Linked DNA regions of Homo sapiens. The protein of the gene in region 3 purifies or fractionates together with the protein of the main gene of each other region. This does not show direct contact. Each region holds a gene or a part of one and is shown on either strand. Other genes may lie near its edges.

The links.
Region 1: the proteins of CSNK2A3 (region 3) and MMP1 purify together in Homo sapiens (affinity purification with mass spectrometry, with the first as the bait; one large-scale study listed by BioGRID). This does not show direct contact.
Region 2: the proteins of CSNK2A3 (region 3) and F2RL3 purify together in Homo sapiens (affinity purification with mass spectrometry, with the first as the bait; one large-scale study listed by BioGRID). This does not show direct contact.
Region 4: the proteins of CSNK2A3 (region 3) and EIF3M purify together in Homo sapiens (affinity purification with mass spectrometry, with the first as the bait; one large-scale study listed by BioGRID). This does not show direct contact.

Annotation. Positions count from the first base shown.
Region 1 is NC_000011.10:102,789,419-102,792,289, reverse strand, and holds the end of MMP1 (interstitial collagenase isoform 1 preproprotein), read left to right. Parts: intron 1-794; coding exon 795-957; intron 958-1,483; coding exon 1,484-1,587; intron 1,588-1,768; coding exon 1,769-1,878; 3' UTR 1,879-2,371; downstream 2,372-2,871. UniProt on the Homo sapiens protein: Cleaves collagens of types I, II, and III at one site in the helical domain. Also cleaves collagens of types VII and X.
Region 2 is NC_000019.10:16,887,807-16,891,798, forward strand, and holds the start of F2RL3 (proteinase-activated receptor 4 preproprotein), read left to right. Parts: upstream 1-1,192; 5' UTR 1,193-1,383; coding exon 1,384-1,492; intron 1,493-1,766; coding exon 1,767-2,815; 3' UTR 2,816-3,992. UniProt on the Homo sapiens protein: Receptor for activated thrombin or trypsin coupled to G proteins that stimulate phosphoinositide hydrolysis. May play a role in platelets activation.
Region 3 is NC_000011.10:11,351,442-11,354,741, reverse strand, and holds CSNK2A3 (casein kinase II subunit alpha 3), read left to right. Parts: upstream 1-1,491; 5' UTR 1,492-1,622; coding exon 1,623-2,798; 3' UTR 2,799-2,800; downstream 2,801-3,300. UniProt on the Homo sapiens protein: Probable catalytic subunit of a constitutively active serine/threonine-protein kinase complex that phosphorylates a large number of substrates containing acidic residues C-terminal to the phosphorylated serine or threonine.
Region 4 is NC_000011.10:32,597,331-32,600,830, forward strand, and holds part of EIF3M (eukaryotic translation initiation factor 3 subunit M), read left to right. Parts: intron 1-3,358; coding exon 3,359-3,500. UniProt on the Homo sapiens protein: Component of the eukaryotic translation initiation factor 3 (eIF-3) complex, which is required for several steps in the initiation of protein synthesis.

The sequences.
Region 1 (2,871 bases), about 91 Mb from region 3:
TCGAGACACTATGCCACGCACCAATATTTTTGCAAACGTGTGTTTAACGTAGTACAATGAGTAAGACATTTGACTCAGCCATACACTCAAGGCAAAGAATTAAATGCAGGTCAGATGGGCCAAACGCTTTGAAACAGGATTTTTAGCCTTTAAATTATGAAATTAAATGGATGTTAGAGACAGAAAGTTTCAAATTCCTTTTTCATGAGGGGTAAATAGCACGTGTGTACAGTAACAGAAATCTTGGCTTTAGTATATGAGACCAGCTTTATGTGATGAGGGGCTTACTGAGTATAAACACGGAATCTGGACACAGCATTAATTCAAGTATTTGGAACTATCTTCTAGTCAAATGCAGTGATTTGAATCCAGGATTGCAAACCCTTACAGGTTATGAGTCACTACAGCACTTCACCCTTTATGATACAAATGGTTTGAACTTCCACAGTCCATGAGCAAACCTGGAGAACCGAAGTTTATATCACCAAGGTGGCATAACTAACTCTTTAGTCATTTGAACATCTGACTGTGGAAAGAAGCCCCCAACTCCATAAACAAGTCATTCTCAAAGCTTGCTGCAGATTAGAATCAACTAAGAAGCTTCCAAAGATAGACACATTTAATTGGTCTGGGATAGGGTCCTGGCATCAGTATTTTCAAAAATCTCCCTAGATGATTCTAATCTGCAGCCAGGGTACTGCACTAGCATGTGAAACTAAGAACTTAGCTGAAAATTCACTTACTGCCTATTGAAGTCTTAGGCAAGTGTTTTATCACTCTTTCTTGATTGGCAGGGAATAAGTACTGGGCTGTTCAGGGACAGAATGTGCTACACGGATACCCCAAGGACATCTACAGCTCCTTTGGCTTCCCTAGAACTGTGAAGCATATCGATGCTGCTCTTTCTGAGGAAAACACTGGAAAAACCTACTTCTTTGTTGCTAACAAATACTGGAGGTAAGTTTAAGTGCAGAGAATGTTAGGGCCTCAGTTCTTTCTACATAAAAAGTTCTAGAATAGCCCATTTCAAAGTGAGTCTCAAACTGCCTTGGCCGGCATCCTTTCCTTCAGATGGCTGGTGCCAATCTATCATCTATTTAGTCTATTGACCAATAATCATCACACAATGCCTGCACTGGGAATCCAGAGAATGTAGGGGGATGAATTTTAAAAGGATGTAGAATTGAGGACATTCATCTTAACGGAGCTACTTTGGCCAAAAGTTACTTATCTTCCATAGTATGTTACCTCGATAGGACATAGCGTAGAACCTACTGGAGAATTCGATGCTGGATTTCAGAGGGGCCTTAAAGGCCTTTTAGTTCACCCAACATTCCACCTTATCCCATCCACTCCCCATTTCACAAATGATCTATAAAATGAAATATTCTGGTTAAATTCCTCATTGTGTATTTTCTGTAATGATTTTCAGAGTGCACATGTTTAGCAAAAGGTCTGACACTCTTAACTCTTTTCTGACCAGGTATGATGAATATAAACGATCTATGGATCCAGGTTATCCCAAAATGATAGCACATGACTTTCCTGGAATTGGCCACAAAGTTGATGCAGTTTTCATGAAAGATGGTAAGTGAATATACATGTATTTCCTCCATTTCATTGCCGTAGCAATAACATCATTATTGTTAGTTGGAACAGCAAATGCCAAAAATATCTGTGCTCACAGATGAATTGGTTTCTCAAGAATTCAAGTTAAACCTAGAAACTACTTGTATAATGTAGTAAGTCTCTTTTGTTTTGTTTCTAGGATTTTTCTATTTCTTTCATGGAACAAGACAATACAAATTTGATCCTAAAACGAAGAGAATTTTGACTCTCCAGAAAGCTAATAGCTGGTTCAACTGCAGGAAAAATTGAACATTACTAATTTGAATGGAAAACACATGGTGTGAGTCCAAAGAAGGTGTTTTCCTGAAGAACTGTCTATTTTCTCAGTCATTTTTAACCTCTAGAGTCACTGATACACAGAATATAATCTTATTTATACCTCAGTTTGCATATTTTTTTACTATTTAGAATGTAGCCCTTTTTGTACTGATATAATTTAGTTCCACAAATGGTGGGTACAAAAAGTCAAGTTTGTGGCTTATGGATTCATATAGGCCAGAGTTGCAAAGATCTTTTCCAGAGTATGCAACTCTGACGTTGATCCCAGAGAGCAGCTTCAGTGACAAACATATCCTTTCAAGACAGAAAGAGACAGGAGACATGAGTCTTTGCCGGAGGAAAAGCAGCTCAAGAACACATGTGCAGTCACTGGTGTCACCCTGGATAGGCAAGGGATAACTCTTCTAACACAAAATAAGTGTTTTATGTTTGGAATAAAGTCAACCTTGTTTCTACTGTTTTATACACTTTCTATATTTATTATTGTTACTTTCTGATGACAACGCCACCCTTACAGAGACTGCTTTTCAAATTTGAAATGGGAAGTAGACAATATAAAAAATGTTCATGTGGGAAATGAGGATATACAAAAAACTCAACTATTCTCTATTCACATGGAATTTATACCATATAAACTGGGGTGGGGGAGGGGAATCCATTTCCCTTGCCCCATTTATGGATTCCAAAAGTGGTTTTAGGTAAAATCAGTGACATCATGGTAGAGCGTTCTAGGTGTATGTCATTTTGTCTCTTCTGAACATATGGGAGGGTTCCATTTTCCCACAGTCCAACTCCTTGCAGAGTTGGGTGGTGGGCAGTGGGGCATCTGACTACTTCTAGCCAGAGGGTTGAGTGAAGAAGTGACAAATATCATTTTCAGACTGGAACATTTAATTGCTGGTGGAAATTTCTCTAGTAGTCTACTCCTTCTGTCCTGTGGTAGAAGTACATCATGAGAGAGTT
Region 2 (3,992 bases), on a different chromosome or scaffold from region 3:
TCCTGCTCCCAGACCCCCCCAAGCCCTGTCCCCCATCCCCTGTAGCCCAGCGCTGAGCACACTGGGGCCAGAACCACCCATACCAGACTCCCCCAGGGCACGACGGGTTGAGGCCTCTCTGAGGCAGGGAGGGACAACACTGAGGGGCCTTGTGCAGAAGAGGGAAGGGGTACCCCCCCGAGCTTCAGTTTCTTCATCTGCCCGATGAGCCCCCATCCAATGGTACCCAGGAGTGGGGATGTGCTGGGGCTAGAGGAGGGAGGCCCCCTGGAGGCTGGCTTGGGGACCCTTCAACCTGGCCACCTCACTCAGGGTCAGAGGTCAGAGCAGGCGAGCCACACACCCCGAAGTCCCCCCGGTCCTCGGCAGGTGCTGTCCCCAGCATCACTGTCTCCCCTACAGATGCCCGTGTGTCCCCTGGGCAAGAGTGAAGTGAGGCACTCATACAGGGGTGCCTTGTGAGTATGGGGTCAGCCGAGGATGCTGAGGGGCTCTCGAGGTTCAGCCAGAGTCCCTGACGCTGGGCTCGTGCTGCTCTGGGGGTCTGAAGGGACCCTCGCTATTACCCTCTGGGAGGCGCCCATCCTTGGTTTTTTTTTTTTTTTTTGCCGAGTCTCGCTCTGTTGCCCAGGCTGGAGTGCAGTGGCAAGATCTCGGCTCACTGCAACCTCCACCTCCTGGGTTCAAGCAATTCTCCCACCTCAGCCTCCTGAGTAGCTGGGACCACAGGCATCTGCCACCAAGCCCAGCTAATTTTTGTATTTTTATGAGAGATGGGGTTTCTCCATGTTGGTCAGGCCGGTCTCAAACTCCCAACCTCAGGTGATTTGCCTGCCTTGGCCTCCCAAAATGTTGGGATTACAGCCGTGAGCCACCGTGCCTGGCCTAGCAGGGCTCTTCTTATCCTGCTCACCAGAGATAGGAAGTCGGGGGGTGACTTCAGGAAAGGCCCAGAGCCCGTGATGGGCGTGGGGATTGGGGTGAGGACAGGGCTGTCGTGAGAACAGTGGCTGCAGATGTGAGCGGCTGGCAGGAAGTGGCCACTTGAACCGCAGATGCTTCCTGGGCTGGTCAGGGACCGGGGGTGCTGGCTGCAGCTGGGACCCCCCCCCCTGCATCTTGCTGGCCTGGCACCTGGGTCCCTGGGAGGCGCCACACTGGATATAGCCACGTGGGGCAGCCCGGTCTCCATAACCCACACTCCAGTCCTCCCACGGGCTGGCTGGCAAGCGGCCCTGGTGGGTCTGCGGGGGCAGGGGCAGCCTTCCTGGTTTATCTCTACCGGCGCGATCTGCTCGTCCGCCTCGGCTCCAGAAGCTGGGGCTCAGGGTCCGGCGAGGCAGGAAGCCTGAGGCCACAGCCCAGAGCAGCCTGAGTGCAGTCATGTGGGGGCGACTGCTCCTGTGGCCCCTGGTGCTGGGGTTCAGCCTGTCTGGCGGCACCCAGACCCCCAGCGTCTACGACGAGAGCGGGAGCACCGGAGGTGGTGATGGTGAGTGGTCCTGGCTTTGGGGTGCAGAGATGGGGTTACATCAGAGATGGAGCTGGGGGCCCGGAGCTGGGGAGGGGGAGGCCGGGAAGTTGCGGGCTTCAGCCCAGCCCACTCTGTATCCCGTCTCTGACCCCATAGGGCTGGGCTATTCCCTTGAGTGTCATGTCCAGCTGTTTCCCACCAGGGCAGACCCCAGGCTCTGAGCACCTCCCTCCCTGCTGCTTCTCGTCACCTGCCGAGGCAGGGGCTGACTGAGGTCCCCTCTCTCTCCCAGACAGCACGCCCTCAATCCTGCCTGCCCCCCGCGGCTACCCAGGCCAAGTCTGTGCCAATGACAGTGACACCCTGGAGCTCCCGGACAGCTCACGGGCACTGCTTCTGGGCTGGGTGCCCACCAGGCTGGTGCCCGCCCTCTATGGGCTGGTCCTGGTGGTGGGGCTGCCGGCCAATGGGCTGGCGCTGTGGGTGCTGGCCACGCAGGCACCTCGGCTGCCCTCCACCATGCTGCTGATGAACCTCGCGGCTGCTGACCTCCTGCTGGCCCTGGCGCTGCCCCCGCGGATCGCCTACCACCTGCGTGGCCAGCGCTGGCCCTTCGGGGAGGCCGCCTGCCGCCTGGCCACGGCCGCACTCTATGGTCACATGTATGGCTCAGTGCTGCTGCTGGCCGCCGTCAGCCTGGATCGCTACCTGGCCCTGGTGCACCCGCTGCGGGCCCGCGCCCTGCGTGGCCGGCGCCTGGCCCTTGGACTCTGCATGGCTGCTTGGCTCATGGCGGCCGCCCTGGCACTGCCCCTGACACTGCAGCGGCAGACCTTCCGGCTGGCGCGCTCCGATCGCGTGCTCTGCCATGACGCGCTGCCCCTGGACGCACAGGCCTCCCACTGGCAACCGGCCTTCACCTGCCTGGCGCTGTTGGGCTGTTTCCTGCCCCTGCTGGCCATGCTGCTGTGCTACGGGGCCACCCTGCACACGCTGGCGGCCAGCGGCCGGCGCTACGGCCACGCGCTGAGGCTGACCGCAGTGGTGCTGGCCTCCGCCGTGGCCTTCTTCGTGCCCAGCAACCTGCTGCTGCTGCTGCATTACTCGGACCCGAGCCCCAGCGCCTGGGGCAACCTCTATGGTGCCTACGTGCCCAGCCTGGCGCTGAGCACCCTCAACAGCTGCGTGGATCCCTTCATCTACTACTACGTGTCGGCCGAGTTCAGGGACAAGGTGCGGGCAGGGCTCTTCCAACGGTCGCCGGGGGACACCGTGGCCTCCAAGGCCTCTGCGGAAGGGGGCAGCCGGGGCATGGGCACCCACTCCTCTTTGCTCCAGTGACACAAAGTGGGGAAGGCTGTACTGGGTCGAACAGGGTCCCTTCCCCCACTTCACGTCCTTCCTGGGACCTCAGAATGTGACCTTATTTGGAAATAGGGTTGTTACAACTGTCACTAGCGGAGGTCACTTTGGAGAAGGGTGGGCCTTACATCCAGTGTGGGTGGTGTCCTCATAAGATAAGGAGAGGCCAGGCCTGGTGGCTCACGCCTGTAATCCCAGCACTTTAAGAGGCCAAGGCGGATGGATCACTTGAGCCCAGGAGTTCAACACCAGCCTGAGCAACATGGTAAAACCCCATCTCTACCAAAAATACAAAAATTAGCTGGGCTTGGTGGCTGGCGCCTGTAATCCCAGCTACTCAGGAGACTGAGGCAGAAGGATCGCTTGAACCTGGGAGGCAGAGGTTGCAGTGAGCCGAGATTGCGCCACTGGACTCCAGCCTGCGTGACAGAGAGCCTGTCTCTAAATTAATTAATTAATTAATTTAATTCAATTTTAAAAAGACGAAAAGTGACGGCCAGGTGCAGTGGCTCACGCCTATAATCTCAGCACTCTGGGAGGCCAAGATGGAGGATTGCTTGAAGCCAGGAGTTTGGGACCAGCCTGGGCAACATAGGGGGATCCCATCTCTACACACAAAAAAATTTTTTAATGAACCAGGCATTGTGGCATGCGCCTATAGTCCCAGCCACTCAAGAGGCACAGGCGGGAGGATCACTTGAGCCTGGGAGGTTGTGGTTGCAGTGAGCTATGATTGTACCACTGCACTCCAGCCTGGGCAACAGAGCAAGACCTTGTCTCAAAAATAAACAAACTAAAATTAAAAAAAGAAGACGAGAGATAGTGGGTGTGGTGGCTCACACCTGCAATCCCAGCACTTTGGAAGGCCGAGGTGGGCAGATCATCTGAGGCCAGGAGTTCAAGACCAGCCTGGCTAACATGGTGAAATCCTATCTCTACCAAAAATACAAAAATTAGCCAGGCGTGGTGGTGGGCACCTGTACTGGGGAGGTGCCCACCCAGCTACTGGGGAGGCTGAGTCAGGAGAATCGCTTGAACCTGGGAGGCGGAGGTTGCGGTCAGCTGAGATGGTGCCACTGCACTCCAGCCTGGGCGAAAGAGCGACTCTGTCTCCAAAAAAAAGAGAAGAGGAGAGGACACAGAGACACACAGAGAA
Region 3 (3,300 bases):
TAAATCTTGAGCTCAGAGGAATGTAGTGTGTTTTCCCCTGTCCCGAAAAGCTGTGGTATAGCAATAGTGAATCTTATCATCAGTGGAATATTATAGTGATAATAATTATAGCTGATACTTAGGGGCCTCTAAACTTCTTCCAGGTGATGAAATAAACTGTCTCTGTGTATTACTTCATTTAATTCTCACAGCAACTATCTTTGGAATTTATCACTTTTATCTCCATTTCATAGACAAGGAAACTGAGTGTTGGAAGGTGAAGTGAATTGCCTAAAGTCACCAGTTCAGCAAATGGGAAATGTAGGACTTGACACCAAGACTGTTTGGCCCCAGAGGCTATGCTCTGAACCATAATGACTTCCTGTCTTCCAAAAGGCAGGCTCTTGGATCCATATCTTACTGTGCTTCTAAATTATCCTGTGACCCTGAACCTTAGTTTGCTCACCTGGGAAATGAAGGGAGGTCCTGGTTAGGTTCCCTTCAGTTCTACTCTATTGCAGTATGCTGATCTCTTTTGTAAATCTGTATTAAATGAGAGTTTGCTATCGGTGACTTTCAGAGATGACACCAGTGATGATGCCCATGCTGACGATTCATTCTGATGTCTATGAAAAGAGCAAATCCTTTAAGAGAAGATGTAGCATACCAGTGTTTATAATCTGAGTTTCATTTGATTAAGAGGGGAAGCTCTTTAGAACAAATATCATTTCTGAGCGAGAGAATGTTCAGCATCTCAGCCTCATTTGTATCATTTGATAAAAGGGCCCCACTGAGCCAAGTGTGAGGATGATGCTTGAGCCAGACACATAGACACCAGACATTCCTCTGATGTCTGCTCCCCAGGCTTGGCCACATTGCCTCCCACCAACCCCATCTCAATGACACATCCATTACCTGCCATCAGTTGGCTCTATGGTGCTGGGAATGACAGAGTGTATCTACCCTGGATTTCAGAAAGAACCCTCCTGGCTTATCATGGCAACACCCTTTGGACACTCGTTTAAAGAGTCCTTCTTTGGGCCAGTGTTATCCTTTTGGGGGCATCTGGTATGGACGGCCAATTTGAATCTGACTGGGACATGCTAATGAGCCATTCATATGTGTGGGATTTGTTTCTGATTCGATTAAGCTTCAGAGAGAGGAAAGAAACAGCCACTGATTAGAGACATAAAAAAAGAAATACTTTAAGTGAGTAAGTGGTTCATCTTCATATAGGAAAGTATAAATTAAACATGGTCCAGGAGATGTGCTTTGAATAGCAGCTGGATAGCACAAGCATGTCCACAAGGAGACGGTGCCTCACAGCAATTGAAAGGGACTTAACCCCCAAAAAGGGCTCTGAATATGCTGAGTAAATAGATGAGCCCAGTTAGCTGATAAAAATGACTCTCAGATTAGAGATGGGAAGGTTTTTATTTGGATTTTAGAAAATTGCTCCCCACTCCATCGCCGCCATATTGTCTGTGTGAGCAGAAGGGAGAGCGGCCACAGCCGCTGCCGCTTCCACCACAGTGTGAAGAAAACAGGTCTGAAACAAGGTCTTACCCCCAAGCTGCTTCTGAACACAGTGACTGCCAGATCTCCAAACATCAAGTCCAGCTTTGTCCGCCAACCTGTCTGACATGTCGGGACCCGTGCCAAGCAGGGCCAGAGTTTACACAGATGTTAATACACACAGACCTCGAGAATACTGGGATTACGAGTCACATGTGGTGGAATGGGGAAATCAAGATGACTACCAGCTGGTTCGAAAATTAGGCCGAGGTAAATACAGTGAAGTATTTGAAGCCATCAACATCACAAATAATGAAAAAGTTGTTGTTAAAATTCTCAAGCCAGTAAAAAAGAAGAAAATTAAGCGTGAAATAAAGATTTTGGAGAATTTGAGAGGAGGTCCCAACATCATCACACTGGCAGACATTGTAAAAGACCCTGTGTCACGAACCCCCGCCTTGGTTTTTGAACACGTAAACAACACAGACTTCAAGCAATTGTACCAGACGTTAACAGACTATGATATTCGATTTTACATGTATGAGATTCTGAAGGCCCTGGATTATTGTCACAGCATGGGAATTATGCACAGAGATGTCAAGCCCCATAATGTCATGATTGATCATGAGCACAGAAAGCTACGACTAATAGACTGGGGTTTGGCTGAGTTTTATCATCCTGGCCAAGAATATAATGTCCGAGTTGCTTCCCGATACTTCAAAGGTCCTGAGCTACTTGTAGACTATCAGATGTACGATTATAGTTTGGATATGTGGAGATTGGGTTGTATGCTGGCAAGTATGATCTTTCGGAAGGAGCCATTTTTCCATGGACGTGACAATTATGATCAGTTGGTGAGGATAGCCAAGTTTCTGGGGACAGAAGATTTATATGGCTATATTGACAAATACAACATTGAATTAGATCCACGTTTCAATGATATCTTGGGCAGACACTCTCGAAAGCGATGGGAACGCTTTGTCCACAGTGAAAATCAGCACCTTGTCAGCCCTGAGGCCTTGGATTTCCTGGACAAACTGCTGCGATATGACCACCAGTCACGGCTTACTGCAAGAGAGGCCATGGAGCACCCCTATTTCTACACTGTTGTGAAGGACCAGGCTCGAATGGGTTCATCTAGCATGCCAGGGGGCAGTACGCCCGTCAGCAGCGCCAATGTGATGTCAGGGATTTCTTCAGTGCCAACTCCTTCACCCCTTGGACCTCTGGCAGGCTCACCAGTGATTGCTGCTGCCAACCCCCTTGGGATGCCTGTTCCAGCTGCCACTGGCGCTCAGCAGTAACGGCCCTATCTGTCTCCTGATGCCTGAGCAGAGGTGGGGGAGTCCACCCCCTCCTTGATGCAGCTTGCGCCTGGCGGGGAGGGGTGAAACACTTCAGAAGCAACGTGTCTGAACCGTTGCTTGTGGATTTATAGTAGTTCAGTCATAAAAAAAAATTATAATAGGCTGAAAAAAAAAAAAAAGAAAATTGCTCCCCAAATCCCTATGACATTTAAGCTCATTGTCATTCTCTGGCAGCACCAGTGACAGTAATGGGGGCCAGAGATCCTATTTCAAAACAAAGAAGTGATTACAGTAGATAGCGCAGGTGTCAATGGGACCCTGATTTGGAACTTGCTAATACTTCTGTCTCTGAGTTTGGGGCTTCTATAGGGTTTTGGTTCCATAGATATGCCTGGACTTGAACTAGCTTACCTTCCCAGCCTTGTGCATCGGGAAGCTGTGAGGGTCAGATCCTTCTAGATTTTGTGTCCCCTTACAAGGGTTGGAAGAGTCTGGCTGC
Region 4 (3,500 bases), about 21 Mb from region 3:
GTTTTTTCCCCCCTACTATACTATTTTATGCTTGGATACCCCCGCCATTAACAAATTACAAAAGTATATAGTATTGCCAGTTAGATCTGAAAGATGGAATTAGAAATGGAAATGTAATTTTACATGATAGTAAGACTTTTCTAACTACGTTTGTTGAAAACAGCATAGTCTTTATTATTTTTATCTTTGAATTTTCTTGTCTAGCGTATCAGTTCAGTAAATGTTTGTCAAATTGAATCAAATCTTATTCATCCTTATTGAGCAAACCCTACATATGTTCAATATTTTAATTTCCTTCTGGAGCATGTTTTTAACATACTAAAATACAAAGAGAAAACTCAGAAAATCTGCAGTTGAACAGGTTTTAAATGTTGTAAACTACCAGTTTCTTTACACTGGAGTCAACTGTGAAACTAAGGTGCTTTGTTCTCCTACTAGGCAATAATCAAAACACATTAGAGATTGATTATATTTTCCATATTAAGACTGAATTTTTTTTTGTTTTTGAGACTAGTCTTCCTGGTTCTTGACGATACAGATGAATGTATGGTCTATTTTGATAGTCTTCAATTTGGTAATCATTAATGCTTGTCACCTGTAAATTGTGTGCCTCCATTGGAATTGGGGAAGATTGACTTATTCTGAACATAATAAGGCATTTGAAATACACCAAGATAAAGTAGATGTAAGTGTGTTTGTGTAGAAAGCTTTGCCAGGTGCACTAGACCCAGAAAACCACATTCTGTCCCAGTTAATTTGTTTTGTGGCATGAAGCTATGTGATGGAATGTTAATGTCAGCAACCTCTTTATTTACGCACCAAGGAAAAAGGAGTAGTAATTAACACTTTGACACTCCCCCATTGATGTGTAATTGACTGTTTCAAAGGAGCACTGGTTCATAAGCTATTGCATGCATTAAAACTGGGTTTTCTATATTGCAGCATTTTAAGACAGGGGTCAGTGACAATGCAGAAATTGCTCAATGATGCACTTTTTTTATTACTGCATTAAGGTTTTGACATATTAGTAATGAATAAATGTTTCCATAAAATTAGATTTTTTATAACTTTAAAATTGAAATATGACACAGTACACTGTGACTTCCTCTTTGATGGTAGTATTTTAGTTTTATGAAACAAAGCACAGCTTCCTACAAAGTCTTTAACTCATACTTCACTGCCTTAGTAGTTTGATTTTTCAGAACAAGAGTCCTAAGGGTTTTAAGTTTGGTTCTTTGTTACTTTAAACATCAATTTAAAGTGTTTTTAGATGCAAGTTTTCACATGTAAAATAGATAACGGTTTTATGGAATTCAGCCTAGAAATAATCTTCATTCCTCTGATAAGTTTTTTCATTTATGGTAAGATTGTAACTGCAGAAAAGATAAGCAGTAAAATAGATTTAATTTCAGGAGTATTTAAAATAATAGAAATTTCAGAAGTTTCTATCACTTTATATTGAAAGAGAGTTGTCTGTCCATGCCAATAGAACTGAGAATGTTAAGGAATTTTTGAAAAAAATCTTTAATACTTATTCATTGATAAGAAAAAATTCGTTAACATTGCTAATTTATTGTGCCAGCTAGAATTCAAATTCCTTCATTTGCCTTACGTTTCTTGAACATCTATGCAAATCAGTATTCTATTAGAAATTTGTTTATATGCTTTTCAGAAAACATCTTTATATTAATGTGTATATTTTTTATTTTAATTCTATAATTAAACATTTATTACAGCTGAAAGCCTAGTGACAACTATCTAGATTCCACAAGTTGCAATCAGTTTGTCAGAACATTTTCCTTTATTAACACTGACAACTTAGGCCAACAGTAGCATTATCTTGTGTCAACTGAATTGCCCTAACATGTCCACATGTAATCTGGTGTTATCCAGTTGCTACCTTTTGCTTCAGAAAGTTAATCGGCATCTAATTTGCATTGTTAATTAGGGTTAATGTGCACTAATTGATTTCTTGGCGCCTGTAGATTTCCATTAAACCCAGTTAGCAATACTTCCTTGTATACCTCATTCATTTGAGTTATGGTGATCATGTTTTTGTTGAATCTGTGCCAAATAGGAAGCCTGTATCATAATTACAGCTAATTAACAGATGATCATGTCCTATGTTAATGGGCTTCCCTAATCTTCCACTAATATATGAATGTTATAAATTTAAAATTTATTTATGGAGTGTTTAGAGAGTGAACTTTTTAAACAATACAGACTTGAAGCTCTGAATTTATTACAGGGCACTTGATTGATCATTTGCTGATTTTACATAGTTCAAAAGTTCAGAGAAAAGGAACATGTAAATCTAGATTAGTTTTAGAAACTTAGTTTTATAATTAATAAGTTAGCATCAAAACAAGTATATATGATATTATGTTAGAATTCTGCTCCTACTTAGGACTAGGTTATATATTTAGGATTCCTAATTTTTAAAATTTCTAGCCCTTTATTTTAGAAATGAACCTATTCTAGGCCTAGCACTGCTATTTTTTGACTATAAGTCCCCATTTAATCTCTTTGCTCCTCAGTTTTGTTTTTAAAGTGAAAGGATCAGGACTGGGTAATTCCTTAAGTTTTCTTCTAGGCCTAACACATTGTTGTTATTTGAATAATTACAACAGCATGTTTCATTAGAAATTATAATGCAAAATTTGAATTATTTGTGCAATTTTCTACTTTTGTCTTATAAAGAACAAGTATCACTTTTAATGGTATTCTTTAATTATATCTAGTACTAACTGTATTGGCCTATAAATGTTAAATGACACACACACTTTGACAGTTTTGGTTTGTAAGTAGTTTTGATTTTTAAATAGTGACCTGAAGCAAAATGGAATGTTTTCATAACTGAAAATGTTTGTGAAAGTATTTTAAAACTTCAGGTTTACCAGTAATAGTAACACAGAAAAAACTAATAAGTAGATAAGAAATCCTCTGTGTTTAAATGAAGAGCTATTAGTGTGAAAAATAAGCTTAGGTAATTTAACTAAATAGAAATTGTTCTTATGAAATGTACTTTGTAGATTTTATCTCCTAAAATGTATAACTATTTAAAAATGTAAAATGTGCAAAACTTTTAGGGTCTAAAAATAATCATTTTATGGCCGATTCTTAACTTTGAATCTATCACCTATGGTACTATAGAAAAATTGTTTTTAATACTCTGTGGAGTCAGTTTATAGTTTGCAAATATAAGAAGCTTTGTCAAAATTGTTCTATATAAGTGCTCAAACAATAATTTCCACAATTACAAAAGTAAAAATAATTTCCACAGCTTAACATGAGATGTAATTGTGCAGGTCTTTAATTAGTATGAACACTCATCAGGCTTCACTATTCTGTTTTCTAGGCCTGTTACATGAACAGAATATGGCAAAAATGAGACTACTTACTTTTATGGGAATGGCAGTAGAAAATAAGGAAATTTCTTTTGACACAATGCAGCAAGAACTTCAGATTGGAGCTGATGATGTTGAAGCATTTGTTATTGA